7 linked regions of the Homo sapiens genome follow. The protein of the gene in region 7 purifies or fractionates together with the protein of the main gene of each other region. This does not show direct contact. Each region holds a gene or a part of one and is shown on either strand. Other genes may lie near its edges. The genes, in order: SLC25A16, UXS1, ZNF146, VPS4B, TEX15, COL14A1 and SPOCK2.

Region 1 (3,500 bases), 3.6 Mb from region 7:
CTGGTCTGGTACTCCTGGCTAACATGGTGAAATCCCGTCTCTAGTAAAAATACAAAAAATTAGCCGGGTGTGGTGGCAGGCACCTGTAGTCCCAGCTACTCGGGAGGCTGAGGCAGGAGAATCGTGTGAACCCAGGAGGCGGAGCTTGCAGTGAGCCGAGATCGCACCACTGCACTCCAGCCTGGGCGATAGAGTGAGACTCCATCTCAAAAAAAAAAAAAAAAATATTGCTTAGGAGGCTGAGGCACGATAATTGCTTGAACCCAGGAGGCAAAGAGCTGAGATGGCGCCACTGTACTCCAGCCTAGGTGACAGAGTGAGACTCTGAAAAAAACAAAAAAGGCCTGTCGCAGTGGCTCACGCCTATAATCCCAGCACTTTGGGAGGCAGAGGTGGGTGGATCATGAGGTCAGGAGTTCAAGACCAACCTGGCCAAGATGGTGAAACCTGTCTCTACTAAAAATACAAAAAAAATTAGCTGGGCTGGTGGCAGGTGCCTGTCATACCAGCTACTCAGGAGGCTGAGGCAGGGAATTGCTTGAACCTGGGAGGCGGAGGTTGCAGTTAGCCAAGATCATGCCACTGCACTCCAGCCTGGGCGACAGAGCGAGACTCTGTCTAAAAAAGAAAAAGGGCTGGGACGCGGTGGCTCACACCTGTAATCCCAGCACTTTGGGAGGCTGACGCGGGAGGATCACAAGGTCAGGAGATCAAGACCATCCTGGTCAACATGGTGAAACCCCATCTCTACTAAAAATACAAAAAAATTAGCTGGGTGTGGCGGTGTGCGCCTGTAGTCCCAGATACTCTGGAAGCTGAGGCACAAGAATCACTTGAGCCCAGGAGACGGAGGTTGCAGTGAGCCGAGATCGTGCTACTGCACTCCAGCCTGGCAGCGAGGCTGCGTGTCAATAAAAAAGAAAAGAAAAAGAAGAAAAAATATATATATAATTGTTAAAAATATTTTTTGTTTAACCTAAACTTTTATCACCTCAACATTTCATTATTTTGTTTCTTTTTTTTAAATACAAACTATTTGAAATCCAGGGTGTATTTTACACTCACAGCACGTCTTGATTTGGACTGCCACATTTCAAGTGCTTAATAGCCATATGTGGCTAGTGGCTGCTGTGATTGTATAGCACAGCTCCAGAGTTTTCTTTATAGTAATTTAGAACCATTCCATTTGATTGGTGATATGTTGTCTCTCAGGGGAAGAGCAGAACATTTGTTCATGAATTTGGATTGCCGTGTTCACCCAAAAGATTTTTTGGGCTGGGAGCATTACCCTGTGCTTGTTGTATCCAGCTACTTGAGAGGCTGAGGTGGGAGGTTCACTTGAGGCCAGGAGTTTGAGATCAGCTTGGAAAACATTGTAAGACCTTGGCTCTAAAAAAATTTTTTTTAACTAAAAACAAACAAACAAAAAATTTAGTGAGGCATGGTGGTGTGTGCCTGTAGTCTCAGCTACTGAAGAGGCTGAGGTGGGAGGATTGCTTGTGCCCAGGAGTTGGAGGCTGTTGTGAGCTATGATTGCCACTGCACTCCAGCCTAGGCAACAGAGTGAGAACCTGTCTCTTAAAAAAAAAAAAAAAAAAAGATTTTTGAAAAGATTTCGGTCCAGATTGCCTATTGAAAGGGAAAGCCCAAGCCCAAATTATTGGTTTGAAAGGAAAGGAACAACTCTGAAACAGGAAAGTGTTCATTGCTGAAATCTGAAAGATAGTCCTTCAAGCTTTAGTTCTATAACCACCTGCTGTTGATACTATACAACTTGAGCTATAATAAAGGCTTAAAGGGCAACTGGATATACATCCTTTAAAAGGATTGCATTAGTATTTCAAATATAAGTATGAAATAGTTGTTGTCCAGTAAATGTCATAGACATAGTACAAACAAAATATGTTGTACTAATGAGTCCTGAAATTTGATGCATAATGCTTGTACTTGTTTAGAATGACTTGCCTTTTTATTATGAAAAAATTTTCACTTGTTAAAACATTTGTCTTTCTAAAGCTATTCAAGATGGCATTTAACCTTCTTTAAAAATTAATATTATGGGCCGAGCGAGGTGGCTTATGTCTGTAATCCCAGCACTTTGGGAGGCCAAGGTGGGTGGATCACCTGAGGTCAGGAGTTTGAGACTGGCCTGGGCAACATGGAGAAACCCCGTCTCTACTAAAAATTACAAAAATTAGCTGGGCATGGTGGCGCGTGCCTGTAATCCCAGCTACTCAGGAGACTGAAGCAGGAGAATCACTTGAACCTGGGAGGCAGAGGCTGCAGTGAGCCAAGATCATGCCACTGCAATCCACACTCCCATCTGGGTGACAGAGCAAGAGTCCATCTCAAAAAAACAAAATTGATATTATGGATCCTGAAATTGTTTCTTCATGAGTGGGCATAGAGGTCATCATTTAATCATTGTCTTTCAGTACCATGCGGGATACTATGAAGTATGTCTATGGACACCATGGAATTCGAAAAGGACTCTATCGTGGTTTATCTCTTAATTACATTCGCTGTATTCCCTCTCAAGCAGTGGCTTTTACAACATACGAACTTATGAAGCAGTTTTTTCACCTCAACTAAAAAAAAATTATGGTTGGTTTTTCTTAATACATTCTCAGAGGGAGAAATGAAACATTACTATAATTGTGGGGGGAACATTACTTGAATGGGGATATTTACCCTGTCACAAGAGCCACTGGTATTTTAGTACTTGATTATTTTTTCTTTAGTCACAAATCAGAACTGCTTACCATACTTTTTGATGCCAAACATTATACCTTAGAACATTGAAGAAAATATTCCTAAGCTGATGCTGGCTAAACCGCTTTAAAGTTTTATTTGGAAGTAGAACTAGCTTTAAAACGGGGTTCAAGAGGTTGCCATTAGCTTTGTCATGCTGTTCAAAGTTTTTAATTGTTATCATGGTTTTTAAAAGACTGACAGTGTTTATTATTATTAAAATAAACAGGGTTGGTTATATTGCAATAGAATAATGAGAATTGAATTTTTAAGTTCTATGAAACAGCCAGCATTGACATTTTATTTTTGTTATCTCTCTTCTCACAATTATGCTCCACTGGATAATAGGAAAAACACTTCTTTCCTTCATTTTTTAAATAAAATTAATGTTGTATTTAAAAGGTAGCCATGTAGAGACACAAAAATAAATGAAGAAGCTGGACATGGTGGGATGGGCATGTGGTCCCAGCTACTCTGGAAGCTGAGGTGAGAGGATCACTTGAGCCCTGGAATTCCATGCCAGCCTATGCAACATCATGAAACCCCACTTAATAAATGAATGAACGACTAAGTCTTGCTCAAATGTTATTATGAGGTACTATGAGTGACTTACATGTGTTTTAAAATGTCAGTGTGTTTCCCAGAGGCAGAAATAAAAATACTGAATATCTTTGCTCTTAAAAAAAAAGTAACACTATAGATTTGTTTTTGTTAGATGATTTGCTCTATAGTAGAATATTTAAGTAGAC
Region 2 (4,680 bases), on a different chromosome or scaffold from region 7:
TATGACAGTGTATATATGACAGTGTGAGTGTGTGGGAGACAGTGTGAGTATATGTGTGTACAAGTGTTTGTATGGCAGTGTATGTGTATGAGAGAATGTAAGAATGTGTGTGTGCATGAGAGATTTTACGAAAACAGAGCCCAGAGCAGGGGCTTCCAGCCGCTTCCCAGGTAACATTCTCTGAGACTCCTGATACAGGAGAGGCTGTTTACCACTTGGAGAAAACCCTCTATCTGCCTGGATGCCGAGCCCACCTTGCTCCTCCGGGGGCTGTCTGACAAGGGTCAGTGCCTACAGGACAGCAGACACAGGACACGGGAGGCCCCTCCCCACAAGGCAGCATTAACTCCCTGCACTTACCACGGGCTCCCACCCCAGCATCAGCTTTGCTTTTTTGATGTCTGGTTTTCTTTTCTGTGGGTCATCCTGGGCTTCGGAGAGAAACTGAATTTCACTTCCGCTACCTGAGATGTTTAAAGAAAAAAAAGGTAGGAGAGAATCACAAAGCATGGGTAAGCACAGCCTTACCATCCACATCAAAGGCAAACCCCATATGTGGTGTGAATAGGGTGCAGGCGGTGGAAATGCAGTTCTCTGAGAAGCCCCGGAGCTCCCGAGGGACTGTTCTGCGTGGAAGTCCAGGGAGTGCTCCTGCAACTGCTGTGGCCAAGCTGACTGTGTGCAGGCGCCCAGCAAGAGCTCGGTGGGGGGCAGGTTATTCTGTCTCAACAGGCCTGAGTTACCGCCCACTACAAGAGGGTTGCTCCAAGGCAGACCACCCACACCAGGTAACAAGTGCAGACGTGCCCACCGAGCATGACCCCGGTGTGAGACCACAAACGTGGTGTGGGGCCATCCCTGAGGTGGATGCCCCAAGTGGGCCATACCTGGGTGCTCGGAGCCTAGACAGCCCTGAGACCCAAGATGTGCAGCCACCCAGCTGGAGGGACCTCTCGGAGGACGGCAAAGGCTGGCCTGTTCCACATCCTTGCTGGGCCCAGGCCCCACTGGCCAGCAGTACACAGCCCCACCAGTGACTGTGGGCCAGACCTGCAGAAGAAAGCCTGTGGAGGCTTTCCCTGCCTCCGTGTCATGGAGGCCACATTGCAGACTCTGCAGCGAATCACCACCACAGGTGGTTCAGGATGGTCTGTCACAAAGCTATATACAGAAGCACAGCAGGGAAGCTGCACGCCCCTCCCCCCAGCCTTAGGTTTCAAATAGTGTTTCTCAAGCGTCAGCACGCACGGATCACCTGAAGAGCCTGTCAACAGGCAGATCCTGATCTGGGGGCCTGGGCTAGGGCATGAGAGTCTGAATTTCTAACACACATCTGATGATGCTGCTGCTGCGTTGGCCCACGGGCCTCACTCTGTGCAGTGAGGGTGTGAAGGAGTGGATGGCACAGAGCTGTGATCTGAGCCTGCCCCTTCCTCACGCAGGAGGAACACACAGATTCAGGATGGAAAAGCTGGGAAGTGCATCGGAGCAGCTGTGGGAGCCACAGATGATGCAGGCTATGTCTGAGGAAGACCGCTGCTTCTACTGCCACGAGCAACGGGAGGATTCCAGCCATCCGGGTCGATTAGACCAATGCCGATGAATGGCAGCCTGATGCCAGGAAGGGCACACTGGAGGAATTAACCCAGCCAAGCGGGGTCTGAATGGTCACCTCAGGACACACTGTGGCATACTCCTCCTTGGCCTACCTGCCAGTCTAGTCTGGTTGTGACTTCACTCAAATTTCAGGATCAACCCCAGACAACAGACACCCTCCAAGAGTCTGACTCCTCAGAGCTCCAGGAAGTCTGAAGATGAGGCCAAGGGCTCATCCACTCTATGTCTGCAATCCAGGGCTGGTCTGGAAGACCTGACCTTCTCATGGCCTAAGAGTCCACCTTGATGGGGTGCTCCCAATGCTACACTGCCCCCAGTGGGTGGCAGCCAGGATAACCAGAATTGCAAACAGAATTTCAAACCTGCCTGAAGCACGCAGCTGGTGGTTGCTGTCTCTTGCTGTCTGAAATTCTATGCTTGACATGACCAGTTCGGAAATCCAATAGTTGTCACCCATGTAGGATGATCTAATACAATCGTGCCTCAAACACTGGGAGCAAATCTCCTCCTCCCTCCCACTTCATGCAAACCTGCAACGAAAACTGAGGAGAAACCAATCCTGCCCTCCTTTATCTTTCTATTCCTTAAAAATTAGAAAACACTTAAGTATTCCTGATAAAAAGTTCTGCTTTGATCCAATTCAATTAGCTTGTATTAATTACCCACTTTCTAGTCAAGGTGTTATTAACAGATAGGGCAGGCACAGTCGATTTTACTCAGGAAATGACTTATCCTACTTACCAACAAGGTTTTTAATTAACTGAGCAAATTCTAGGATTGTGTGTTCTTCTGGGTTCCCCTAAGAAAGAAACGGTTTCCAGTTATAAGCGTCATGACAACAGCAGCAATCCACCACCCAGACCACAGGCGTGTCTGCAGAGACGTCTACTGGCCGAGTCTGACCTCCCTGCGCTGCTTCAGCAGAGCTCCGTGTGCCAGAGGGTACTCCGCTTCCAAGATGACAGTTACTCACCTGGCAGTGCTAAACTGCACCATCTATACCTTCAGCCTCTAGGCTGCTGTGTACAAGGCTGGGCTTTGGATAGGTCAAGAGTTTCTGATGAAGGCACACACTCACTGAGTATCAGACAATTTCCATATCTAACATAACTTCAATGTCACTTTTATAAAAGCTTGGGTTTACAAAATTAGCTCTCCTAACACTATCTATTCCCGTCTGGGTGAGCTGTGTTAACCATGTCAGTGATGAAGGACTTGTAATCTCACACCCAAAAGCTAAGGCAGAAATGAGTAGGCTCACAGGCGAGTGTCCCCGGCAAGCCAGAGGACAAACTCCATGCATTTCATGAAGAGAGAATACTTGTGTGGGGGCTTTAAGGAAAACCATTTGCTCTTTTTCTCCCTCCCATCACACATCAGAGCACCTGTTACTCTTACTCTGCCACCACTGCCCTCATCATAAGAGACCACCATAAAGTCTGATAATTCTATACCCTAAAGCCTCTTCATGCCCAGGTCCTCGGTTAGCCTGAAGCTAGATGGTAAATGTGGAGGGAGAGACCCTGGGCCTCAATGGAGCACAGAGGGGATGACTAGCGAAGTGGAGTGACGGAAATTTGCAAGAAAGTGATTCTGCCTTTCTCCTGGCAGACACACGATTCCAATTTTAGGAATTGTCCCTGTGCAAAGGCCCTCCCCAAAGAGGGAAGGAGGAACATGGTATCTACAGAGAAGAGCCTGGCTGCCCAGGGAAGTCACTGACAACACCCTTGCTAAAGAACCTGCAACAAAAACGCAGAGCAGGGGCGCCTCGGGCCTCTCCAGTGTACACAGGCAAATGCTGCAAGCAAAATGAGGCTTACAGTGTGAGGCACGTTCTGGTCTGTTTTAAGTGAATTTTTTTCAAAAGTGGCACACTGTACCCATGAATCAGCAACAGTCCCAGAATGGAGTCAGCACTCCAGGGCAATTCTTTCCTACGTGATGAGAATTCCCTTTCACCTCAGGGAAAAATGCATGGTCTGCAATGTATTTGAGATGGCTGGTTACAAAGACATGCATAAGCAAAGGTGACATGGTTTGCAAGAAATAGGTCACATGGCCAACATTTTAGAGTTCCCTGAACTTTAGAGTGTTGTGTAGGAACCAGGAGAGGTAATTTGGGAGAAGCACCTGAAATGACCCCAAGGTAGGGTTAAGGGGGAGGTCTCTGTGAGCTAAGAGGTTCTTGTGTCCACTGCCATCAACAGAAGCAGAACATCTTGAATGCTGGACAGTCCACATTGGAAACCTTGCATTTTAAATGAGATGGAACAAAACTGCTCAGAAAATCACTCAGTGACAGAAAGGGTAAGAGGTCCTACCATGACCTTGGCTGATGCACCAAGGAGGAGGCAGCTTAGGGGGTAGGACCATCTCCTTCAAATCCTTGGAGAGTTACCACACTGTAGAGGCATCACACTAGCCATGAATGGCCCCAGGTGGAGAAGTGAGGTCAGTGGACAGGTGTGCAGAAAGTGAGATTTCTGGTCCAATATGAGGAAGAGCTTTCTGCCGGCCAGAACTGTCCAAAGACAGGGTGAATTTCTCTGAGCAGAAGCAAGTTCACCAGCACTGAAACTGCTCAAGGCTGGATGATCCCTCCAACAGGGAGGTTCTGGGGCTGTGGGCAGGCATGCAGGGAAGGCGAGAAGCCATGAAGGTGGTCTGTCCGGCTAAATGACAGACATCATCAGCAACCGGAAAATTTTCCCTCTGAACAACCTCCATCTTCTAAAAATGCAATCAGGCCTTATAATGATGACCCGCCTGTTAAATAGAGAACGAGATGCACACACACGTCCACCTACTACCACCAAAAGGCTTCACACAATCTTAGACCCAGGCCCTTCAGAAGGTGGAGGGACTGATTACATCACTCACCCGTGCCTTGCAGATGTTTTACTTCTTTGTATACTCTTACTTTGTGTTTGTTTGTTTTTCCTCTAGTATTTAGCAAGCAACAAACACAAATGTCCTAAGTGTGCCGATGGCAAATGAAGCAAAGCCTGGTGCTGCTCATGGTTTCACAAATGAACGAAAGTCTGAGCTGTCCTGCAGAGT
Region 3 (4,680 bases), on a different chromosome or scaffold from region 7:
TTTTTTTTTTTTGAGATGTTGTCTTACTCTTTTGCCCAGGGCAGAGTGCAGTGGTGTGATCTTGGCTCACTTGCAACATCTGCCTCCCCAGTTCCAGCGATTCTCCTGCCTCAGCCTCCTGAGTAGCTGGGATTACAGGTGCCCACCATGACGCCTAGCTAATTTTTGTATTTCTAGTAGAGACAGCGTTTCACCATGTTGGCCAGGCTGGTCTCGAACTCCTGACTTCCTACTCGTCTTGGCCTCCCAAAGTGCTGGGATTTCAGGCATGAGCCACTGAGCCCAGCTTTTAAAATGCATCTCACTAAAGATGTATGTAGTCAAAGAACTCTGTTCTAAAGTCATTTGAAATCGTTTTTCTGAGGAATTATGTTACTAAATTAACATACAGTTGGGTTCATTTGTTGTTTTCAGGTTAAGGGACTGCTTTTTTTTTTTTTTTTTTTTTTGAGACGGAGTCTCACTCTGTCCCCTAGGCTGGAGTGCAGTGGCGCAATCTCGGCTCACTGCAAGCTCCGCCTCCCGGGTTCACGCCATTCTTCTGCCTCAGCCTCCCGAGTAGCTGGGACTATAGGTGTCAGCCACCACGCCCGGCTAATTTTTTGTATTTTTAGTAGAGACGAGGTTTCACCATGTTAGCCAGGATGATCTTGATCTCCTGACCTCGTGATCCACCCGCATCAGCCTCCCAAAGTACTGGGATTACAGGCTTGAGCCACCGTGCCTGGCCAAGGCACTACTTTTTAAAAAATGAATTTGATTACTATTGAAGTAAGTAATGCATTTCTGTGATTCAACAAAGATCTATCTCACAGAGATATCTCATTCTGCTCCCTTCCCCCAGTCACATTCTTCTTTGTCTTATGTAAACATGTCTTGTTTTTTTTTGTTTGCTTCTTGTTTATCCTTCAAGTGGGTTTTTTGTTTTTTGTTCTGTCACTATTATATATTTCTCTTCACTCCTGTTTCCCTCCACCTTACATAAAAGATAGCATACCACATGCACCTCCCTATATCTCACTTTCTTTAATAACAGTATGTCCTAGAGATAGCCCTTCCTTTTTTCTTTCTTTTTTTTTTTTTTTTTTTTTTGAAATAGTCTCGCTCTGTCACCCAAGCTGGTGTGCAATGGTGTTAACATGGCATACTGCAGCCTCCAACTGCTGGGCTGAAGTGATCTTCCTGCCTCAGCCGCCTGTGTAGCTGGGACCACAGGCACACTCCACCACACCTGGCTTTTTTACTTTTTGTAGAGATGAGGTCTCACTGTTTCCCAGATTGGTCTCGAACTCCTGAGCTCAAGCAGTCCTCCTCTCTTGGCTTCCCAAAGTGTTGGGATTACAAGTGTGAGCCACTGCACCCAGCCAAGGTGTTCCTTCTTAATCATAATCTTTAAAAGAAATTTTTTTTTCAGCTGCTGTATAAATAAGATGTCATTATTTGGATGCACCATGGTTGATTCAGTTAATCCCGTTGTTGAGCATTTGGATTGTTTCCAGTCTTCTGCTGTTGCTAACAATGCAGTAATGAATAATTTTTTTATGTGCGCCATTTTATACTGACACAGGAGTAGCTCTAAACTAGACTGCTATTAATACAAATGGCGCTGCCCAGTGGGTAAGTACTTACACTCCCACAAGCCATGTGCGAGAGCGTCTTCCCCTTAAACTCACCATGAGTGTAGTGTCGAATATTTGGTATTTCGCTAGGGACATAAGAGACAATCTGAACTTCAGTGTAGGTTTCATTTACATCCCTTCTTATGAATGAGAATTTTTTTTTATATGTTTAAAGGCCTGTATGTATTAATCTAGGAACTGTCTATTCATATCCTTTTCACCATTTTTCTATGGGGTGTCTTCTCCTTAGAGGAGCTGTTTATAAATTAGAAAGGTTAGCCCTGTATGAAATGAGTGGTGGCTTTTTTTTTTTTTTTTTTTGAAGTTTTCATTTGCATTTGGACATTGTTCACAGTGGTTTCTTTTTTTTTTAATCTTGCAGAAATAAGAGGTTTTGTTTTAATTTAGTAATAATAGTTTCTTTTTTTACATAGCCGTGCTTAGAATGAGCCCCCTGTGGTTGGTGAGCACAGAGACATCCCCGCACCACACCAAAGACCTTTTTATTCATGTATTTTTTAGAGGCACAGTCTCACTGTGTTGCACAGGCTGGCCTTGAACCCCTGGGCCCAAGCAAGTCTCAGACTCCCAAGTAGCGGGGACTACAGGCAGTGCACCACCATGCTGCTATGGTTTTCTTTTTATTTTCAAAACTTTTGGCTGGGCGCGATGGCTCACGCCTGTAATCCCAGCACTTTGGGAGGCTGAGGCGGGTAGATCACTTGAGGTCAGGAGTTTGAGACTAGCCCGGTCAACATGGTGAAACCCCGTCTCTACTAAAAATACAAAAAATTTAGCCAGTCATTGTGGTGCACGAGATCACACCACTGCACTTTAGCCTGGGCAACAGAGTGAGACTCCGTCTCAAAAAAAAAAAAAAATCTAGTTACATTTTTTTCTTTTTGAGATGGAGTATCTCTCCGTCCCCCAGGCTGGAATGCAGTGGTGCGATTTCGGCTCACTGCAAGCTCCGCCTCCCGGGTTCACGCCATTCTCCTGCCTCAGCCTCCCAAGTAGCTGGGACTACAGGCGCATGCCACCACGCCTGGTTAATTTTTTCGTATTTTTAGTAGAGACGGGGTTTCACCATGTTAGCCAGGATGGTCTCGATCTCCTGACCTCGTGATCCGCCCGCCTCGGCCCTCCAAAGTGCTGGGATTACAGGCGTGAGCCACCGCGCGTGGCTGATTCATCAGTCTTTTATGGTTATCAGACTTTTCCACTCTTAAGTTTCACCGATATTTTCAAATTCTTATAAAGTTACAGTTTTTTGTTGTTTGATTGTTTTAGAGTTGGATCTTGATCTGTCACCCAGGCTGGGGTGCAGTGGCGTGATCACAGCTGACTGCAGCCTTCATATCCTCGCTAATTTAAAAAAAAAAAAATTGTAGAGATAAGATCTCCCTGTGTTGCCCAGGCTGGTCTCAAACTCCTGGGCCCAAGTGATCCTGCTACCTTGGCTTCCCAAGTCAGAGCAATAGTTTTTTTAAGATTTTGTTTTTATTTTAATTTATAATCCATTTAGATTTTATCCTGGTGTATGCTATCAGATATGCATCCAGCTTTACCTTTTTCCAATTGGCTACCACGTTCTTTGACATCATTTATTAAAAGGTCTTACCTGGCTGGGCACGGTGGCTCACGCCTGCAATCCCAGCACTTTGCAAGGCCAAGGTGGGTGGATCACTTGAGGTCAGGAGTTCGAGACCAGCCTGGCCAATATGGAGAAACCCTGTCTCTACTAAAAATACAAAACATTAGCTGGGTGTGGTGGCACATGCCTGAATCCCAGCTATTCGGAGGCTGAGACAGGAGAATCGCTTGAACATAGGAGGGCGGAGGTTGCAGTGAGCTGAGATTGTGCCACTGCACTGCAGCCTGGGCAACAAGAGCCAAACTCCATCTCACACACATTAAAAAAAGGTCTTATGTTTACTATTTTTAGGATGCCACTTTGATTATATACTAAATTCTCACATTTATTTGGTCTGTTTCTGGGTGTGAGCAGAAAGACTGAGGACACTGCTATAGCCCAGGTGTAACAACCAGGGAAAATATTTATCTTTTTACTATTGAGGCTTTATCATTGTGTTTTACTTTGTGGTATAGCTAGTCTCTTAATTGCTCGTCCTTTTCAGTGTTTCCTGGCTATTCTTGCCTGTTTATTTTTCTTTGTAAATTTTAGGATTAGCTTGTCTCGTTCCAGAGGGGGAAAAGGTAGAACTAGTTTGTTACTTTTATTGGGATTGCATTAAATTTATAAAATAACTTGGGAATAGGGACATTTTTATGACATTAAATATTCCTCTTTATGTACGTGATACGTATTCTCGTTTCTTTTTGGGTCCTCTAGGGTGTTTTAAAATTTTTTTCATACAGGTTTGGACACTTCTTACTAAGTTTATTTCTGGATGTTTTGTTTTATGTTGCTATGAATGGAGTCATTGTTGGCATATATGAAGCTGTTGATTTCTACATACTAATATTATTCCCTGCTTTCCTTAGTTATTTGTAATTAGATTATATAATTGAGGCAGTAGGCATCCTTGTCTGTTTAGAATCTAATAGAAATGCCTTCAGTGTTTTTCTATTACTTTTATTATCATGATTTGCTTTTCAGTGTTTTTACATTAGATAAGATACTGGCTTTTGTGGTCAGATACAGATTATGATTATATAAATATAGATTACCCATGCTGCCTGGGTCAGTGGGAGTGTGAGCAGAAAGACTGAGGACACTGCTAATAGCCAAGGTGCAACAACCAGGGAAAATCTGTTGATTGAGGAAACAACAATCCCTCAAAATTTCGTTATTGCATCCTTAAACAAAAAATCAAATGGGACAAAAATAAGATGTCTATTCCTATTCTTCTGTTTTCTGTCGATTCCCTTCTTTTGGGTGACTGTTTCTTTACTCATTTCCTCTGTTTATCTTTTGTGGTCTATTTATAGCTTTGCTTCCTTCTTAAAAGTTTTGTGTCTTAAGTTCATTTTGTTATGTTTCAGTTTTCATCTGCTTTGTGATTCTTACTTTTTTTTTTCTGGCTCACTGCAACCTCAA
Region 4 (3,967 bases), on a different chromosome or scaffold from region 7:
CGAGACAGAAATTTATCATAACTTCACTAGACCAGTAAGAACAAAGCCACTTTATAAACTTACCTATTTTATAAGTCTCTCACATAATCCATGAGGTAGATCAAAATAAAAATATAACTCCCTTTTTTTTTCCCCAAGTCTTTACTAAGTACCTAAAAGCACTCAACACTATATTAATTGCTGGGGAAAATGTAACTCTCAGAACTTACAATCTAAATGATCTAAACATGATCAATAGAACATGCTCCAGAGAAAAATCTTAACACAGCAGCAGCAGCAATTTAACTGCTAAAGAAACCCAAAAGTAGGGTGGGGGTAGTTTGGGTGGTCTTCCTGCAAGAGGTTACATGGTTCATCATCATTAGGTTTTAATGGAAATACGTGATGTGGACTAGCAAAAAAAAGAAAGATACCATATTAAAATAAGAGGAGGATACAAATGAAGGGATGAAAGTAGGAAAGAAAAGGGCACCTGTGAAAACTCACAAACTTAAAATAACATTAGTGTCAACAATGGGCACTGTGTTGCTTCACTTGCAACATACAGCACCATCAGGTAGGTATGCCTCTTTATCAACTCTGAAAGTGGCTAAATGGTGCTTCTGTGGCACTAATCAAGTACACTCATTCTGTTTTTCTGCATGTAGTTGACAGTGGACTCAGAAGTCAATTCTCTATTGACATGTTTTATAATTATAGAGTCCTTATAGATTTCTCAGGGTGAGACAAAATGCTTTCAAATATCCAGGGTGTAAGTCATAGAGATGCTTAACAACTATGATCTACTTGCTGGCTCAGAAAATGTCTACCTAAACTTTATAATTACTGGTCAAGAGCCAGAGAAATAGAACATGCCCATTCGGATTCCTTTGAGTATCTGTCCATAAAGAACACACAGCAGTACTGTATAATTCTGAGGCTGATAAACAGGTAAGATGTATAAATTATCTTATCCACAAAGAATTCAGTGTTAGTTTACTAAGTTAGTTCTCAATCCTCACATAAAAGTCATTGAAAAACAGAATTTTCATATATACATTAATAATTTTAATGATTTCTTTGTATCTAACCAATTTAGGTAATATTTTCTTTTACACAGAAGGTCCCAAAATAAAGAATAATACACAGAATACAGTCAATAGGTTATATCAATTTACTTCACATAAGAGCATAATTCAGGCCTTTTCCATTTAATAACAAAAACAATCTGTACAGAAAACCCAAAGGCAACCACATAGCATATGTAAAATGTGCAAATACACTTTAAAATGCAAGTTATTCTATAGCATTTGCAAGATAGAATTTCACTGTAATTAGGGAATCTAGTTCATCCTAACTTAATAGTCTTTTGCATGTATAGACAATGCAATTCTACAAGGCACAACTCAGCGTTGATGCTAAAGTATGAAACACATCCTCAGATTATTTATTTGAAAATATTAAAATAGCATCGTTTATTATTTTTTAATGAGTCATGAGCTCATTTCTAAAGCTTCATAAAGCATTACACTGATAACATATGTGTGGTCAGGACAAACTGTTCCCTGAACTTAAAAGGTGAAGGACAAGACCCCATATTATTATCCTGTATTAAAAAAGGAAATATACATATATGTACACAGACACCCCATATCACAGACAAGAAACTTCCCATAATTCAAAGGGAGACCATTTCCTTATTAGCAAAGGTGCGCATTACAGTATTTCATGACAGTTAAAAATTACACACCTACCACCTGTTTTGGTCAATCTTGCTAAAAAAGACACTGAAATAGACAATTTTCTTCTTTAAGGTAAAGACAATGTCTAATTTAGAAAATCTTCCTCTTGAGATTGCACAGTGAAAGGTATCAGTTAATTAAATATAAAAGCTTACCGTTTTTGTTTTTTTTTGAGACAGAGTTTTATTCAGTCGCCCAGGCTGGAGTGCAATGGCGCTATCTCGGCGCCCAGGCTGGAATGCAGTAGCGCGATCTCAGCTCACTGCAACCTCTGCCTCCCAGGTTCAAGTGATTCTCCCGCCTCAGCCTCCTGAGTAGCTGGGATTACAGACACTCGCCATCATGCCCAGCTAATTTTTGTATTTTTAGTAGAGACGGCATTTCACCATGTTGGCCAGACTGGTCTTGAACTCCTGACCTCAGGTGATCCACCCATCGTAGCCTCCCAAAGTGCTGGGATTACAGGCATAAGCCACCATGCCCAGCCAAAGCTTACGCTTTTAAAGAAATTATTTAAATCTACACAGAAAAAAATATCAACTTATTAAAAACTATTAAGAGCACTGTCTATAATTCAAAATCTTTCAAACCCAATCACAAAGCTCTTTGCTGTTTTATTGCCCATCCCTGAGTAAAGATTCTATCATTTGTAATTTTTTAATAACGTAAATTTTACATTGATAAGAATGATGTTTAACAATTTTTTTGAAAATATAAAATAAACCCTATATCATTTTAGTAAAAAAAAAAGAAAATATAAATGCTCTTTGCAAAGACCACCATTCATAAAAATTGTAAATATTTGTATGTCAATTTCTGACATCCTTTTTACTGGGTAATTTCTGTTTTTATGCCGTTCATATATCGCTCATTTCCTCATAACCTGTTATTTTGTACCTTTTGTTAATAGGAGTATTTAATAAGTAATGGAGGAAAAGTACAATATAAAACCTAATGGAACTCTGAAGTGAGATGTGTATTTCCCTGTGGTAAAAGAGTTTTACTGGAAACAATTAATGCGATCCAAATAGACAAAAATATCTATGAAAGAAAGAATACATATGGTAAGCATCTTCCTTGTCTTTGGCTTAGCCTTCTTGACCAAAATCTTCTGTAAACTTCTTTAATTTCAACAAGTCATGTTCATTGACTGTAGGTTTTGTGTTAGATAGTGACCGCAACATATCCGACTGTCAGGGAAAAAGAAGGGTAGGGAGGATATTAATAATAGAGTTAACAAAATAAAAAACCGTCATATTATCATTATTGCTATGAACTTTAACCTAAGTTTAAATATGAATATTTGCAGTCTGCCATAAGATACTAACGATAAACTCCCTATTCTTTTTTTTTTTTTTTGAGTTGGAGTCTCACTCTGTTGGCTCAGGCTGGAGCGCAGTGGCGTGATCTTGGCTCATTGCAACCTCTGCCTCCCAGGTTCAAGAGATTCTCCTGCCTCAGCCTCCCAAGTAGCTGGGATTACAGGCACCTGAAACCACACCTGGCTAATTTTTGTATTTTTAGTAGAGATGGGGTTTCGTTTTGTTGGTCAGGCTGGTCTCGAACCCCTGACCTCAGGTGATCCGCCTGCCTCTGCCTTGCGAAGTGCTGGGATTACAGGCGTGGGCCCCTGCACCCGGCCCCTATTCTTTCACAGATCTTTCATGATCTTTGATCATGTTATTCCTTTGTGTAGAAACGTATACTTTCTTCCCCTGAACTGATCAAATGGCTCCCCAATACTTATCAGAAGGACAATCCCCTTAGTCTGAGGATCAAGGCCTCCAAAGTATGTTCATGATCTAATTTCTGGCCTTATCTCTTTTTCTTAAACGAGATCAATTTTCCAAGTCAGTATAATTCAAAAGGAAAATATCATTCACTTACACTTAAGTGAAGCAGAATACCATTCTATGAAAAATCTACTAACCAGAATTTTAAAATAATTAGTTACAATTAAGATCGAAATGGTTAGAAAAATATGCTAATATCAGAGATTCATTAAAAAACTAACTTCTAAGCCTAGACTCCTGTAAAAGGATATGAAAAATAATGAAAAGGACCACTCTAAGTTACTAAAAATTCTTCAAAGCTGAACAAAGTACAAAAAATAAAAAATAATACACCAAGGATTAAAACAAAGGGGTTTCTGAGTAACTTCTCAGATAAGCATTATGGTTAGTTCACACACAAATATATGGGTGTATACACATTTACATGTATATCTATGTACCGTGTAAAAGTTT
Region 5 (4,680 bases), on a different chromosome or scaffold from region 7:
TATGTTTTATATAAAGTCACATTTGGCCAAGGAGTAAGAATCAGCTTAAGTGAACAGCAAAAGAAAAAAAAATTGTTTTAAGTTCCTCAAATCCATTTTTCTCTCTAGAAAATGCAATTTTTTGTGTCTTTCAAGCCCATGCTAATCAATTAAACCTAGTGTCTTTCTGTGCCTTGGTTTTTTCATATGTAAAATGGAAAATTTTCATACGTAAAATGGGAAAATCTGCTTATAAATTATTTTGGTTGACTGTCTTCTGCAATATTGTCTTTTTCATGGGTCTTTCAAGCCTATTCCCAGCAGTTAAACCTAGTGTTTTAGTTTTTCCTAAGGTATTACATGCCTGCTTATCCAAGGTACAAATACAAGCACTTTAATATATGCTTGTTCTCTCTCTCTTTTTTTTTTTTTTTTTCTTTTGAGATGGAGTCTTGCTCTGTCACCCAGGCTGGAGTGCAGTGGCACAATCTCGGCTCACCACAAGCTCCGCCTCCCGGGTTCACATCACTCTCCTGCCTCAGCCTCCTGAGTAGCTGGGATTACAGGTGCCTGCCACCACACCAGGCTAATTTTTTTTTTTGTATTTTTAGTAGAGATGGGGTTTCACCATGTTAGCCAAGATGGTCTTGATCTCCTGACCTCATGATCCTCCCACTTCAGCCTTCCAAAGTGCTGGGATTACAGGCGTGAGCCACTGCGCCCAGCTGCTTGTTCTCTTTTAAGGCTAAAACAGAAACAAAGACTTCCCAGGTCAATAAATAATATAACTATTTGAAGAAGAATGGAGGAATGTTAGATGATTAACATTAAACTGTGAGGATTAAAATATTATGCCTCTTTATTTGATTAAACATACATTAATAATAATAGCCAATACTTATATAGCGCTTTACCATAAATGAGTCACTGTTCTGTGTGTTGTAGTAATCAATATAGCAGAAGAGTGTTGATTAACTGAATTAATCTACTAAATACTGTTATTTTTTTCCCATTTTACGTATGAAGAAACTGAGGCACAAAAGTATAGGTAATGGGTCTAGCGTTGCAGTCAGTAAGGGGCAGATAAAATTTGGGTTTTGGGGGTTTTCTTGTTTGTTTTGTTTTTTGAGACAGGGTGTCACTCTCACCCAGGCTGGAGTGCAGTGGCATGATCACAAGGCTCATTGCAACAGCCACCTTCTGAGCTCAAGCAATCCTCCCACCTCAGCATCCCGAGCAGCTGGGAATACAGGTGTGCCACCATGCCCAGCCTTTTTTTTTTTTTTTTTTTTTTTTGTATTTTTTGTAAAGACAGGTTTTCGCCATGTTGCCCAGGCTGGTCTTGAACTCCTGAGCTCAAGTGATCCACCGGCCTCAGCCTCCCAAAATGCTGGGATTATAGGCGTGAGCCACAGACCAGGTGGTCTGGCTTCACCAAACTGCCACCAAAAATATTATCTCTTATCCATGGCGTGAATAAGTCAAATAATTTTCTCTTAAAAATAATCTATCTGAATTATGCTAAATTTTTTAGAGGAAAATTTTTTGCTTGGTACAAATTTGCAGTCTGAAAATTACTCTATTTTGGTGATCTGGTATTTAATATGACAATTCAAAAGTAGGACTAAAATTTTTAGTCTGACAAAGGAATAGCAGCATCCCAAGAGTTCATTCTCTGCCTAGAATGCTATGACCAGTACTCCAGTTTATTTCTCCTGGGGACTCAATAATATTCAACTTTTGCCTACAGTTTTTTTTTTTTTTTTGAAGTCTTTTTAAGTCTTCAGTTGGTCTATTTGGTATAATTCCCACCAGGTTTGTTGCAGTACTTTGACATTGCACGATCAAACAGTTTCTGAAGAATTTTTGAGAAGCCTGTTTGTTACTAAAGTCAGGTAGAATCTTAAAATGAATGTTAGAAGTAGACAAGTTATATTAAAATTCATTCTTGATAGGGACATTAGTAAGAAGGCACATGAATTGCTAGTTGTTAGCTTTGTTACCCCCACATTTAATGTAAGTACCTAAAGAAAATGTGTAAGTGAACTCTTTCATGAGAAAGATGTATAATTAGATACATTTAGAAATTTATAATTGTGTATTAGTGTTTTTCTGGGCATAACTCCATTACAGTATTAGATAACTTGTTTTAACCTTATCAAGTAATACATTTTTTTAATTTTAGGTTCAGCAGATCATAAAAGGTGAATAATGGTCAGCAGCTATGTTTTTCATACTAAAATGTGGAAAATAAAGCTGTTGACTTCTTTGAATTAACACAGAAAGATAGTTTAATGTTTTAAAATGGGAGGAATATTTTATATGCAAGATGACGTCATGCACACCTCATTGACATTGAAAGAGAAGCTGAGGAATACTTGTGGTTTTTAACCGGAAAACAACTCACAGGGGGAGGAAAAGTTGATTCAGTATTGGTCAATCCTAGTTAGAAATTTATGAATTTCTAGTTAAAAATGTATTACCTATATAGCTATTTTCCTACATTAATCAAAATGAATTGTGTGAATATTTAGTTATGACCAATTTCAGGGTTTAAATAAGGTCCTTTTTTTTTTTTTTTTTTGAGACGGAGTCTCACTCTGTCACCAAGGCTGGAGTGAAGTGGCACCATGTTGGCTCACTGCAACCTCCATCTCCTGGATTCAAGCAATTCTCCTGCCTCAGCTTCCTAAGTAGCTGGGATTACAGGCGCCCACCACCACACCCGGCTAGTTTTTATATTTTTGGTAGAGATGGGGTTTCCCCGTGTTGGCCAGGCTGGTCTCAAACTCCTGACCTCAGTTGATCCACCCACCTGAGCCTCCCAAAGTGGTGGGATTACAGGCGTGAGCCACTGAGCCCAGCCTAAATAAGGTCGTTTTATTATTATTTCCTTTCCAAGACTTGTAGTTATTAATTCCCTTGAAAGTTGTGTCATTATCTTTAATCATCTGATTATTTCTTTGTATTTCCCTAATGTCTTTTAAAAAGCCTCATAACCATAATAGATTAGTAACTAATCCCTGTGCTTTTATGACAATTCCCAACTTCTTTTGCATATAATTTCCATCTGTTTGAGCAGAGAATACACTCAGTTTGGGGTTGTACATGATTGATCTGTCCTCATCTTTCACAACCTATTAGCACAGTCATCTTCCATATTTCATACCCTTCTAACACCATATCTGATTTCAAGGACCTTGGCAAGGTAATTATCTCTCTGTTTATATCTGCATAGGGAAGACAAGTGGCTTTAAGCAGGCAAAGTGGTGACTTTTTTGCCATTCTCAGTTTTTCGCTATCAGTAACACAGAGGATGGCATTTGTTATATTTAATGCTTGGGCTGAAAAAAGAATGCTGATTTGTAGAAGGATAGGTAATCCAGGTAATCTTCCTGGTGGAATAAGATGCAAGTTATCCTGTGCTAGCTTACTTTATGGTAGAGTGGGTCTATTTCAGTCAAGCCAGTCAGAATATGTCCTTTTTGAGAAAGCTGAAGGAAGGACTAGGACTGAAGGATTGAGTGAAAAGTTGAGCTGTTTCTCACCTTTCTCTGCAACCAGGATGACCTTGGCCTTTTTGTGGAACTCAATCTGTTTGTACTGCAGCTCCTAGACTCCAAAGGGAAAGAAACCAAGGGAGTCCTAACCCCTGGGGGCCCCTTAACTTTGATTTTTCCCCGTGATGAAAAGCAGCTGGACTGGAAGTACTCCTCCCCATAGCCTGGGCTCTTGGGACAGTCTTTTAAACATGTAAATTATTTTTAAGTCTGCTCTCATTTGACTATATAATTAGATAGATACAGGATCCTCCTTGGACCTAGAGGAGAGCCTGCCCCAAATTTTTAGAGAAATACATCCATACAGCATAGGTCATTAAAACAAGATTATAATTTGAGTCATCACAAAATCATGGAAATCTTTGAGTGCCAGTTTTGGCTTCTAGTTTGGGAAACCCTTCATAATGGAGGTTGGTTGATTCAACATAGACTATGTAATATGCATTATCAAAATAAAATAGTTTAACCACATAGTTTAAAAGCATAATCCCTCTCTTGCCTTTTCCCTGAGGGGCAACAGACAAAGTCTGTGCAATAAATATGAACACCTTGAGAAATGTACTGGTAATCCTCAGACATTTCCTTCCTGGAATACTTAAATTCTACTGTGCTTCATCACCTAGATTGGTGGTTCTCAAACTGTCGTTTCTCTTCACTATCAATGTCACCTGGGAATTTATGAGAAATAAAAATTCTTGGGCCTTAAACATACAGAATTAGAAACTCTGGAGGTGGGACCCAGTAATCTGTATTTTAATAAGCCCTCTAGGTGATTCTGATACACACTGAAGTTGGAGAATCACCAATCCCTTTGATCATCAAGGATGAACCATAGTTTTTTGCTTTGCTGGTCTGTTACTTCACTATAAATATTTTATTGCCCATGTGGATATTACTGCATGTGTATACCAGGAATTGGCAACCTGTGTTAGTACTACATTGAATGATACCCAAGTTAAAATTGTTAGTGACCTTCACAGTTCTTTTCTACTTCCTTGTCTTCCTTCTTGCAGAGTGCCTGAAACAAGGTAGCCACTGGATAATTTGTTAATTGAATGCCTATCTTCCCCCCTTCCTGCCCTCCCCCTGCAAAAAGCAAAATCACGTTTTCATTTATCTTTTGGTTTCTTCCTCTGCAGGA
Region 6 (4,680 bases), on a different chromosome or scaffold from region 7:
CAAGGACAGCATGATTTTTGTTTCCTCTCACAACTATTCTTGGTCACCTAAAATGTGGTGCTTAAATGCACCTAAATGCAAGTGGTATGCATGATTTCATTGAAAATAATCTAAGGAGCCCTCTTAATTACGGGAGAAGTTCTAAGTTTGACATTTCCCCAAACCAAGAGTAAAATTTTATGGGACGTCTTGGCCACATCACAGCTGTCACATAAGAATGGAGACTCCAAAAGAATGTTCAACCATGTCCTCCAAATGTGCTAAATACAAAGTCAGAGGCCAAGTCTATGTAGGTCATCACTGGGAAGCAAGGAAGACTTAGATGTGCTGTTATTTTGAATTTGCTCTTAAGGTTTTTAAGGGAGTAGCCTCTATAGCAATTTGCACTTTATAGAAAATGTCTCGGGATAATTTAAGGAAGTGAGGCATTCAAGCTCTGCTTCCCATTCATAACCAATTTAACTTTTTTCATAGCACTATCTTCCCATTTTGGTACTAAGCATACTAAAACATTGATCAAAGCCCACAAGCGGGGCTTTTTGTGACACTTACCTCTCACACCATAGGCAGAACATGATGAGGGGTCACAATATCCAGGCTGGCCAGAAGGACCTTGGGGTCCAGGAACCCCCAGATGACCTGGTGGGCCTCTTGGTCCAGGAGAGCCAGGGGGCCCAGGGCTGCCAGGCCGACTCTCCCCTGAAGGTCCTAAGAAGTACCCACAGATGAAAACCGTTGGTCTTTTGCCACAACAGGGTGAGTTTTGAGACAACCAAGAAGTAAACTAACTCTTAGAAGAAGCAACTTTTAGGACAATTAGGACAACCTCTTTCTACTCATTGAGTTCTTTTTTGTAGACTGGATTCCCTAGGCAGAGGGTCATAGTGTAATCACTTATCCTCCTGGAGGTCAATGCTCTCAATCAGCTCAGGAAACTGGCAAGCAAAATGCATCTTTTCTATTTCCTCTTGGATGTTAAAGGGAAAGGAACCTTCCATTATCAACCTTATTTTCTTTTTGGAGCTTTTGTTTCCCAATGCAGTTCCTTATGAATCCAATCTATGGGCGTGCACACACACAGACACAAACATGAACACACTCAGAGCTCAACCTCATCATCTAGTTAGAATAGCCATGCAATTCAGTACCAGTTTATGGCCCCAGATAATTAAAGCTCAACCTCATCAACAGTTAGAATAGCCATGTAATTCAGTACTGGTTTATGGCCCTAGATAATTAAAGTAAATTTGTATGAGTGTGAAATTGTCCTGGAGGGGACCAATGACAAGTTTGACATTCGACCCAATATACTAATCCAAAATTTCTTTAAGCTAGTTTACATTAATTGAGAATTCAGACTGAGTAAAAATAGGAGGATTAAAACTGTTGTGAATTGAAGAAATTTGTCAGCATGTTTTTTTTTTTTTTTTTGGCTTGTATGCTTGTTTTTAGGTCCGGGTTCCAACAGTGTTGAAAAGGCATTCTTCAACTATAATGGAATTTCTCAACTAGAACTGAAATGAAAAGTAGGAACAAGTATCACCTTCTATTTGAATAGCGTGGTGGCTCTCATATATTCAGCTCCTCAATCAGCACTCACCAACCACCCATTCTGTGTAATGTGTAATGTTATATCAGTTCCTCACATTGTCTCTAATAACAGAAATATTTACACTCAAAATGAATTGCATTAGGAACCTCTCTCAGAAAAAGTATTTTCCAAAATCCTTACTAGATTGGAAAGAAAAATCTGTAAAGCACTTTACTTAATGTGGCTAAGACTGACATTATAAATATATATTATAATAAGATTGCAAATTATAATAATTCTAATATCAAGCCTGATCATCTGGAGACCATTCTAAAAGCATATAATACACAAAACTCAAAACTTTTACAGAACTCATTCAGTAAGATTACCATGGCAGGAAATACTAGTGCTCACCAAATAGCCCTGTATTTCTCTAAATTTTGTGTCTGCCTTGCAGTTCAGTTGGGGCTAGGTGATTAGTTCCAGACAATAAAATGTGAATGGAAGTGACATCTCATTCTGTTTAGGAAGTTGAGACCGGTGTGCCTTCTTTTTTTTTTTTCGAGACAGGGTCTCCCTCTGTCACCCAGGCTGGAGGGCAGTGGCACCATCACGGTTCACTGTAGCCTCAACCTCCAGAGCTCATGTGATCCTCTGTTTCAGCCTCTCAAGTAGCTGGGACTACAAGCACATGCCACCACGCCTGGTTAAATTTTTGTATTTTTTTTTTTTTGGTAGAAATGGGGTTTCGTCACATTGCCCAGGCTGGTCTCAAACTCTTGGCCTCAAGTGATCCTCTTGCCTCAGCTTCCCAAAACGCTGGGCTTACAGGAGTGAGCCACCGCACCCAGCCCGATGTGCCTTCTTTTTCTTTCTCTTGGAGGCTACATGATTCACCATGGAGGTCATGGGTTCTGAGATGGAAGAGAGCTACCTTATTCATATGAAACTTTGTGTGATTGTGAAATAAAGCTTTATTGTGTAAATCCACTAAGCATTTGGGATGTATTTGTTACTATAGCATAGTCTGTCCTATCGCAACTCACACAAACAATAAGATCCCAGAATATGCTCTAACTTTTTGGTCTTGTATATTGGGAGGATCCTTATTAACAAAGAAGCCTCCCAATAAAACAAGTAAGAAATACAGCCATTTAAGTTACATACTAGGATGTAAGATGACCATTTTCCTCACTTGCAATGCCAAGTGAATATAAAAATATACATTTGCAGTCTCTTGTTAGGAAGGAAGATTTACCTGCTGGTCCAGGGGGGCCTCTTGGACCTTGGGTTCCAACGCCTGGATTTCCTTTTTCTCCTTTGATACCAGTTAGACCTGTTTAAAATAATTTTTAAAAATGTTTAAAGTTCTTTTTAAAAGAAAATCTTGGTAGTTCCATTTTTCTGGAGTTCGAAAGTGCTTCTCTGATGAAGACAATTAAGTGGGTTCGTTTGGGGTTATGAGTACCATGGGACTTTTAAATTACATTCTGACATTGGTAGTATATGTAGAATCACATGTTGAAGTCTGGTTCTGTATTTGAGTGTGTGGTCTGTATTTGCTATTCTGCCAGTCTCTCTTTCTCCTTCCTACTGAAGTCACACAGCCTGCCAAGAACTGGTCCTTGTCTTTGCACGCACCAGGCCACTGGACTTATGCAGCTGGCACTCCACAAGTAACACAATAGAAATCACAAGTGAACACGTCTAACATTTTCCTTTTGGTCCACTCTGTAATGTGTCTGCAAAAGGCATGAATTGTAATTAGGCAGCAACATTCTGAAGAGCGTGAGTTTCCATTAAAACTTGGAAGCTTCAGAAAAGCCTGTGTTTGATTTGGCTGATTCAGCCCCATAAAAATCTAAATCTATTCATGTTTCTTTTCCATGGAGCAGACCTCTTATAATTTACAGTGCTATTAACAAACTATACATTTTCACAGGCAAACAACAAAGAAACATATACTCTGACACCTCATTATCTAAACAGGTCCTATCACAAGATCACTTGAAAGGTGAGAGCGCCTATATTGAGGCCCAAGATACGGTTGCATTAGACTGGGGTCTGGGTTACCCTGGCTTACATCATAGAAGATCTTTGCTGTCTGTTTTTTTGTGTACAACAATGCTTTGAAATAGCAGCATGCAGAACAGCATCTCTGTTTAATTATACCTACTGAGAAATTATGTTGAATTGGCAAAGCCTAGAAGGAAACATCAATAAGTGAAAAATGGCCAATTTGACAGGTAGCAGGCATGGAAAGGCCTTGCAATTTTTTAAAATTGCAAATAACTATTTGTTTACTTTAAATATAATGCATATTCACTGTCAACAAATTAGATGTAACAAGCAAGATGCTAGCACTTGAAAATAATCACTTTTAACATCTTAGTTTATAACTTCCAGAAAGAAAAGTGTTGATGTAGTATTTGTTCTGGAAATCACTGGTAAAGAAGACTCCGGTGAGGAACTAACAGGTTTTGGTTTTTTGTTTTTACACTGCACATATAATGGTTGTTCCTAACCTGCAGCTTTGGTATCTTTTGTGCTCCCCGTAATGATCTCTTGCAGTCAAGACATAGCCTGGCATCTCTTTTAAAAAGCTCTTCTTCTTTACTAGGAGTCATCCAGGTTGGTCTACTCATTGCTAGAATTCCCAAACACCCAATCCTATTGCATGTCACCTTGATGGTGCTATCTGAGCTTACAAAAGACCAGTATCTCCATGACAGCCCAGGGCACAAACCACCATGCCTGTGACTTTCTGTTCAGTGCCTGGTTCTTCTCTTAGGAGCCCATAAGGAAAACAATGATTTCTCAAAAGTAAAAATACCATCTCATCTGAGTTTTAAAAGCACACAGCTAACTCTGACTCACCAATATTTAATGCTCAATTGCTAATCAAGTTGTTCAGACAGAAAACCGTGCTGTGGAAGCCTACTGGGCATTAGTTTAGTAGCTAATCGGAGTTTGTAGTTTTTAGCTGAGAGGCACTACTTCACTTGTCAGTGCTTATGCCCCAATGTGCATCCGGGAATTTAGCCGAGAATCCATCCTCTTCTGTTTGAACTGGAGTCACTTTGCCAACAGGGAACAACTAATTTTGAAAGAACTAGAACATAATAAAATATACTGATGACTAACACCAG
Region 7 (5,161 bases):
ATTGGCTTCACTAATGGGACTGGAATGTTGTTGATTAGCTTTCGACACAGGACTAGTATTGACCCAGCTTGAAGGTGCTACAGAAGGCAAGTCCCACTGGAGAAGCTACCTGGGACTGTGGGAGCCATTTTGACCCTCAGAGTCTGGAGACAGCTATTGTCATATTGATGGGCATCTTGACAGCACCTTTCCAAACTCTTTATTCAGCAACTTTGGTAACTCTGGAAGCCCCTAAGATAGCACAGGAATGGGAGAGCTGTGGTATCTGGTACCTATCTCCTAAGTGCCTTAGAGATATATAGCTAGCTTTGCTAAAAACGAAAACAGAAACAAAAAAAAAAAAAACAACAAAAAACTAGGATTGTAGGATTGAGATGGTGGAAAAGATGGCAAATTTTGATGAATCTTCAGAACTATGGGACACCGTAGCCTTCTCTTCCCAACCAGAGGAAAGACTAACTTTTTAAAAAAATGCCCATTATGCCCACTTAGTATGTAATTTTGCTTGCACTTTACAGCAGTTTTAATGATGGTATTACCATTAGTTTTAGATAGAAAATAGGTAATTGCTCAAGAATCCAGCCAGTAAGTGGGATTCTGTCCTCTAGTCTCCACGACAGCAAGCCGTGCTCTCTCACTGTACAGCGCCAGGACACACCCAGGAAGAATGCTTTATTACTGTGAGATGAAGACGTCAATGGCCAGGGCCTCACTGCAGCACCACCACTAAATCCAACAGCAAAGGAAACAAGAAAACATGGAAAGGGAGCTATTGTTTTCTGTTTTCCCAACGAGACTCCGGCCTGAGCCACTGAGGCATTCAGAGTTCCCAGATAGGCCAGATTCAGGGTGACAAGGAACCTTGTAAGCTATGTTTTTTCCTACTGATTAAGATTATGTTTTTTAAAGCATTTTAAATTTTTATTTTATTTTTAGATCACAGCAGCTAAGTCTTTTTATAAAAACACAATCTAGGGCTTGGGTCCCAAAAGTTCACTAGGTTTTGTCCCATCAGATGATGTTTCCTCTTTAATGTATTTGTAATGTAAACCTGTCCCCATTTCTGCTGTGCTCTTGGGACTGTGGCCAGCCTCCAGCCTTCCCCGCTGGTATGTCAACATTTAAATCTACAGCCAATAAGGAGGGTCGCAGTTTCAACAAAACCCGAAACACCTCAAACAAAACCAGCACCCCACCCCAGCCCCCCACTCCCCGGCTTCCCCAGTGGCTTATTCAAACTAACTTGAAGTCAAAAAACCATAAGCAAATATGCCTTTTCCAAATTTGCAGCCTCCAAGGCAGATGAAATGGTCAGACATTTGCCTTTTAGGGTTGTCCTGGGAAGAGCTGACAAAACGGGTGACAGCCCCTAAACAGCTGCCTGGGGAGGAGGACATCTGCCTCTGTTTCACCAGCCACTCAGTGCTCAGGCCTTGCCTTGCGCAACGCGGTGCCGCTGGGGAGCAATGGTTCTGAGCAGCCAGTTGTTATACGGCTTTTGTCTTAACGAAGCCACCCATTACGGTAGAGCCATAACTCGCAGGAAGCCAGCTGTCAGGGCTGTGGCGCAGGCCCCTCTGGGTGGGAGGCAAGGGGAGAAAAACAGTGTCTGGCCAAATTCCCTTTCCGACACCTGAGCCTGGCTGGCTTTGTAACCGGAGAGTTTTGTGCCCTCTCCCCCATCCCATCTTCCCCGGGGAGATCCTGGGGCCCTTCTTGCTCTCCATCCTTTGAGGGAGCTCAGGGACATTTCGGGATTCTGGATTTCTTGGTCTGCAACTCCCTGTGTGCCAGGCGGGGCTGGGCCCCGCTGCGGCTGGCTGGCGTTTGGCGCTCTCATCGAGGGAGCGCTTCGCTTTGAAATCTACCCACTCCTTTTTTTTTTTTTTTTTTAAACCAGGTATGATGATGTCAAACGTGATGCTGATGCTACAGTTACAGCCCCTGCTGGCGCAGCCTCTCTGATTCTCTCTCCCTCTCCGCGTCCAGTGCTGGGCTTTTTCAGACAAGTGCATCTCCTAACCAGGTCACATTTCAGCCGCGACCCACTCTCCGCCAGTCACCGGAGGCAGACCGCGGGAGGAGAGCTGAGGACAGCCGCGTGCGCTTCGCCAGCAGCGGGGTGGGAGGAAGGACATTAAAATACTGCAGAAGTCAAGACCCCCCCAGGTCGAACCCAGACCACGATGCGCGCCCCGGGCTGCGGGCGGCTGGTGCTGCCGCTGCTGCTCCTGGCCGCGGCAGCCCTGGCCGAAGGCGACGCCAAGGGGCTCAAGGAGGGCGAGACCCCCGGCAATTTCATGGAGGACGAGCAATGGCTGTCGTCCATCTCGCAGTACAGCGGCAAGATCAAGCACTGGAACCGCTTCCGAGACGTGAGTCCGCAGGGCTGCCAAGGCAGAGACCCGGGGTTGCGGGTTCGGGGATTGAGCTCCGGGGTCTGCGGGAGCGGCCGCCGCACGTCGCAGCCCGAGGCTCCGCAGCCTGGCCGGCTAATTACACGGAAAGTAAACAGTACTGGGGGTCACAGCCCAGCGCCCCTCCCCTGTCCCTGCGGCCCGGGCCGGCGGCCCTGGGACCCCCCAGCCCCGGGACCCCCAGCTCCACACCTGCCCGACGCTCCGGGGTCGCGCGCTCCGGGGTCTCCCCTGCGGGCCGGGAGTGGGAAGGGGTGCGGGGCCGGGGGGACCCGGACCCCGGCTGCCGCTGGACCCCGACCCGGTCCCCAGCTGCGTTGTGCGAGCCGCCCCCGGGCCTGCCCCAGCCGCTGGGATGCTGCAGGCTGCACATACGGGGCACTGCAGCACCGGCAGGTCTGGGTGGGGCCGGCAGTGAGGGTGGCATCGGCTCGCGCGGTGCCCTCTGTTCCCACCGTGGGCTTTGCGGGAGGGGGACAGCATGGGACGGGAGTGTGACCGGGGCTCTGGGTCTGGGGTCCCAGCAGCCTTCTAGGCGAGATGGTGGAAGGCGTGTCCGTACGGGGGTGGGCTGGGGTCCCCGTGCAGAAGGGCGCGCGAGGACCCAGGCTGGTTTTCCCGGACCAACATTTCAGGGGGGAATCCAGCCTGGAGCGAGGGGAGCAGCTCGGAGCCAGAGGAAGGCTCCCGGCCCGGTGGGCTTGAGAAGCCGGGGAGAGTCCAGAAGCTGGGTTTGGGGGCCCCCGGCGGGCGCCGCCCGAACCCCGGCGTAACCTTGGGCCGAACTCCGCGGGGTGGGGGCGGGGGGGTAGCTGCGGCACTTTTGTTTACCGGCACCTGTGGATCAGAGGGGAAGTCGCAGGCGGCGGCCCGGCGGGGCTGGCTCCTTCCTCTCGGCCGGGCCGGGTTGGGGGCTGGGGAAGCAGGGGTGAGGCAGGGCGGGCGGAGGGTGTGGCTGGACCCCGAGATCGTTGGGGGTGCTGTGGGGGATGGGCCCGGATGCGCCAGAGGCGACGCCGGCTGCTCCTGGCGACCTGGTGCTCACCGCGGCCCTGACCCCAGAAAACCTCTTCTAGGACCCTGGCCCTTACTCCTCCTTCCCCAGGTTCCCTCGTCCGACCCACCCAGTACAACGCAGGCCACACCATGACCTCTCCCGTTTTCTCCTTAAACTGCGTGCATCCACAAGTTCCTTGGAAATTTGTTTAAAACACACATGCTTCATAGGCTATCCAGCCAAGTGATGGGAAGAGGCAGAGATTTGGATCTTTTTGTTACCGTCAGACAAGTGACTGTTTCTCCCCAAAGTCAAACTGGCAGGTTGTAATTCACAGAGGACAGCAGGAACCACGGGCAGCCAGGTCTCCAGGCTGAGTGGCCGGGCCCCGCGATGGGCTGCTGATCTCCGCCTTCGCCCCACATGCGACCTGTCCAGCCGCAGGAGCCTGGAGCCCCGCGAGGCCTTCCCGAAGCACCTGCAGGCCCAGCGCAGATGAGCCGCAGTCTCCTGCCGCTTCCTGGGCAGCAGCCCGGCCACAGCAGCGAGGGGGCGGCAGCAGGCCGGCCCATCCGGAATCCATGTGTCACTGGCCTAGGCCTCCCTCCGACTCGCTGGCTGTTTGATCTGCCAAAATGGGACCAGTGAAGGTCAGAGGGAAAAGAAATGCTTAATCAGAACAGGAAAGGTTTAAAATAAAAGATTCCTCCCCACCTCCCTTCTTCCACCTGCTTCCAATAGCCAGCTCCGTGGGTGAGAATAAATGACTTACTGCTTGACCCCATGGCACTGGGCTACCCACCTGTCTCTCTGTATTGGTGCCAACCACTTCCCCCTTCCTCTCATGCTCATCAGAAGAAAGGCACTAGATTTGAAAGTCTTCAGGACTTGCACATGTAAGATTCATGGGAAAGCTTTAGGTGTGTGTTGATTTTGGTAGCCTCAGGCTTTTGTAGGACAGATGTCCTCTAAAACCCCATTTAAGGTAGTCCTGGCTGCAGGAGGACAGGGTCAGGGAGAGAAGTAGGACAAAGAAGGCTGGGCAAGAGGGCCTGGCCCTGGGGATCTGTTGACAGCCTCTGCAGAAAGGCAGGAAGGAGGCTGCTAGCTCAGAGCCACTGCATTGCATAACTCTAGGGGTGCCACAATAGAAATGGTGCCCCCTGAAGTTGTGCAGTGCCCAGACAGTACACAGGGTCCCCACCAGCACTACAAACATATCCCTCTTCTGCCAGAAGAAGCCCTACTTCCTGCCTAAGGGCTGAAGGCACTCTAACTGGGCCCAGTAGCAACGGGCTTTATATTTCCATTAGGCCAGCTCTTTGGAAAATATGCTCCTTGGTTCCTCAAAGGAGAGAGGGGAATTTCGTTTGAACCCCTTAAGGGGTTACAAGGTTGAACTGGGACCTTGTTCATAACCCCAAAATGGTACAGGGCCCCCCTATTTGTCCTAGTAGGGTGGAGGCAAGCAGGACGAGTGGGATACTCTTGGGGAACAGGATTGGGAGGGAAATGCCTCATTCACATGGTGTGGACAGAACTGAAGGGGGAACTTGAGGGAATCAGGTTGAAAGGGTCAGGAGAATGAAGAAGAGCATGAAAACTTGGGGAGTTGCTCCACTTTGGAATTGGCCAGAGCTGGTTGAGAGGGAGCGCAGCTTAGCATCTTTCTCTGAGCACTAGGATTATAGGGAAGGCAGGATTTACCAGTTGAGTAATCCTCCCCTCCAGTGGGCTGAGGGCTCTT

Evidence for each region.
Region 1: the proteins of SPOCK2 (region 7) and SLC25A16 purify together in Homo sapiens (affinity purification with mass spectrometry; one large-scale study listed by BioGRID and IntAct). This does not show direct contact.
Region 2: the proteins of SPOCK2 (region 7) and UXS1 purify together in Homo sapiens (affinity purification with mass spectrometry; one large-scale study listed by BioGRID and IntAct). This does not show direct contact.
Region 3: the proteins of SPOCK2 (region 7) and ZNF146 purify together in Homo sapiens (affinity purification with mass spectrometry; one large-scale study listed by BioGRID and IntAct). This does not show direct contact.
Region 4: the proteins of SPOCK2 (region 7) and VPS4B purify together in Homo sapiens (affinity purification with mass spectrometry; one large-scale study listed by BioGRID and IntAct). This does not show direct contact.
Region 5: the proteins of SPOCK2 (region 7) and TEX15 purify together in Homo sapiens (affinity purification with mass spectrometry, with the first as the bait; one large-scale study listed by BioGRID). This does not show direct contact.
Region 6: the proteins of SPOCK2 (region 7) and COL14A1 purify together in Homo sapiens (affinity purification with mass spectrometry; one large-scale study listed by BioGRID and IntAct). This does not show direct contact.

Annotation. Positions count from the first base shown.
Region 1 is NC_000010.11:68,482,524-68,486,023, reverse strand, and holds part of SLC25A16 (solute carrier family 25 member 16), read left to right. Parts: intron 1-2,407; coding exon of another isoform or gene 2,408-2,435; coding exon 2,436-2,592; 3' UTR 2,593-3,500. UniProt on the Homo sapiens protein: May be involved in the transport of coenzyme A in the mitochondrial matrix. Very little is known about the physiological function of this carrier.
Region 2 is NC_000002.12:106,096,358-106,101,037, forward strand, and holds part of UXS1 (UDP-glucuronic acid decarboxylase 1), read right to left. Parts: intron 2,417-4,680; coding exon 2,359-2,416; intron 465-2,358; coding exon 361-464; intron 1-360. UniProt on the Homo sapiens protein: Catalyzes the NAD-dependent decarboxylation of UDP-glucuronic acid to UDP-xylose. Necessary for the biosynthesis of the core tetrasaccharide in glycosaminoglycan biosynthesis.
Region 3 is NC_000019.10:36,220,858-36,225,537, forward strand, and holds part of ZNF146 (zinc finger protein OZF), read left to right. Parts: intron 1-4,680.
Region 4 is NC_000018.10:63,388,166-63,392,132, forward strand, and holds the end of VPS4B (vacuolar protein sorting-associated protein 4B), read right to left. Parts: intron 2,912-3,967; coding exon 2,810-2,911; 3' UTR 1,025-2,809; downstream 1-1,024.
Region 5 is NC_000008.11:30,902,330-30,907,009, reverse strand, and holds part of TEX15 (testis-expressed protein 15), read left to right. Parts: intron 1-4,680.
Region 6 is NC_000008.11:120,365,358-120,370,037, reverse strand, and holds part of COL14A1 (collagen alpha-1(XIV) chain isoform 1 precursor), read right to left. Parts: intron 2,868-4,680; coding exon 2,790-2,867; intron 709-2,789; coding exon 553-708; intron 1-552. UniProt on the Homo sapiens protein: Plays an adhesive role by integrating collagen bundles. It is probably associated with the surface of interstitial collagen fibrils via COL1.
Region 7 is NC_000010.11:72,085,354-72,090,514, reverse strand, and holds the start of SPOCK2 (testican-2 isoform 2 precursor), read left to right. Parts: upstream 1-1,963; 5' UTR 1,964-2,186; coding exon 2,187-2,375; intron 2,376-3,522; coding exon of another isoform or gene 3,523-3,567; exon of another isoform or gene 3,568-4,289; intron 4,290-5,161. UniProt on the Homo sapiens protein: May participate in diverse steps of neurogenesis. Binds calcium.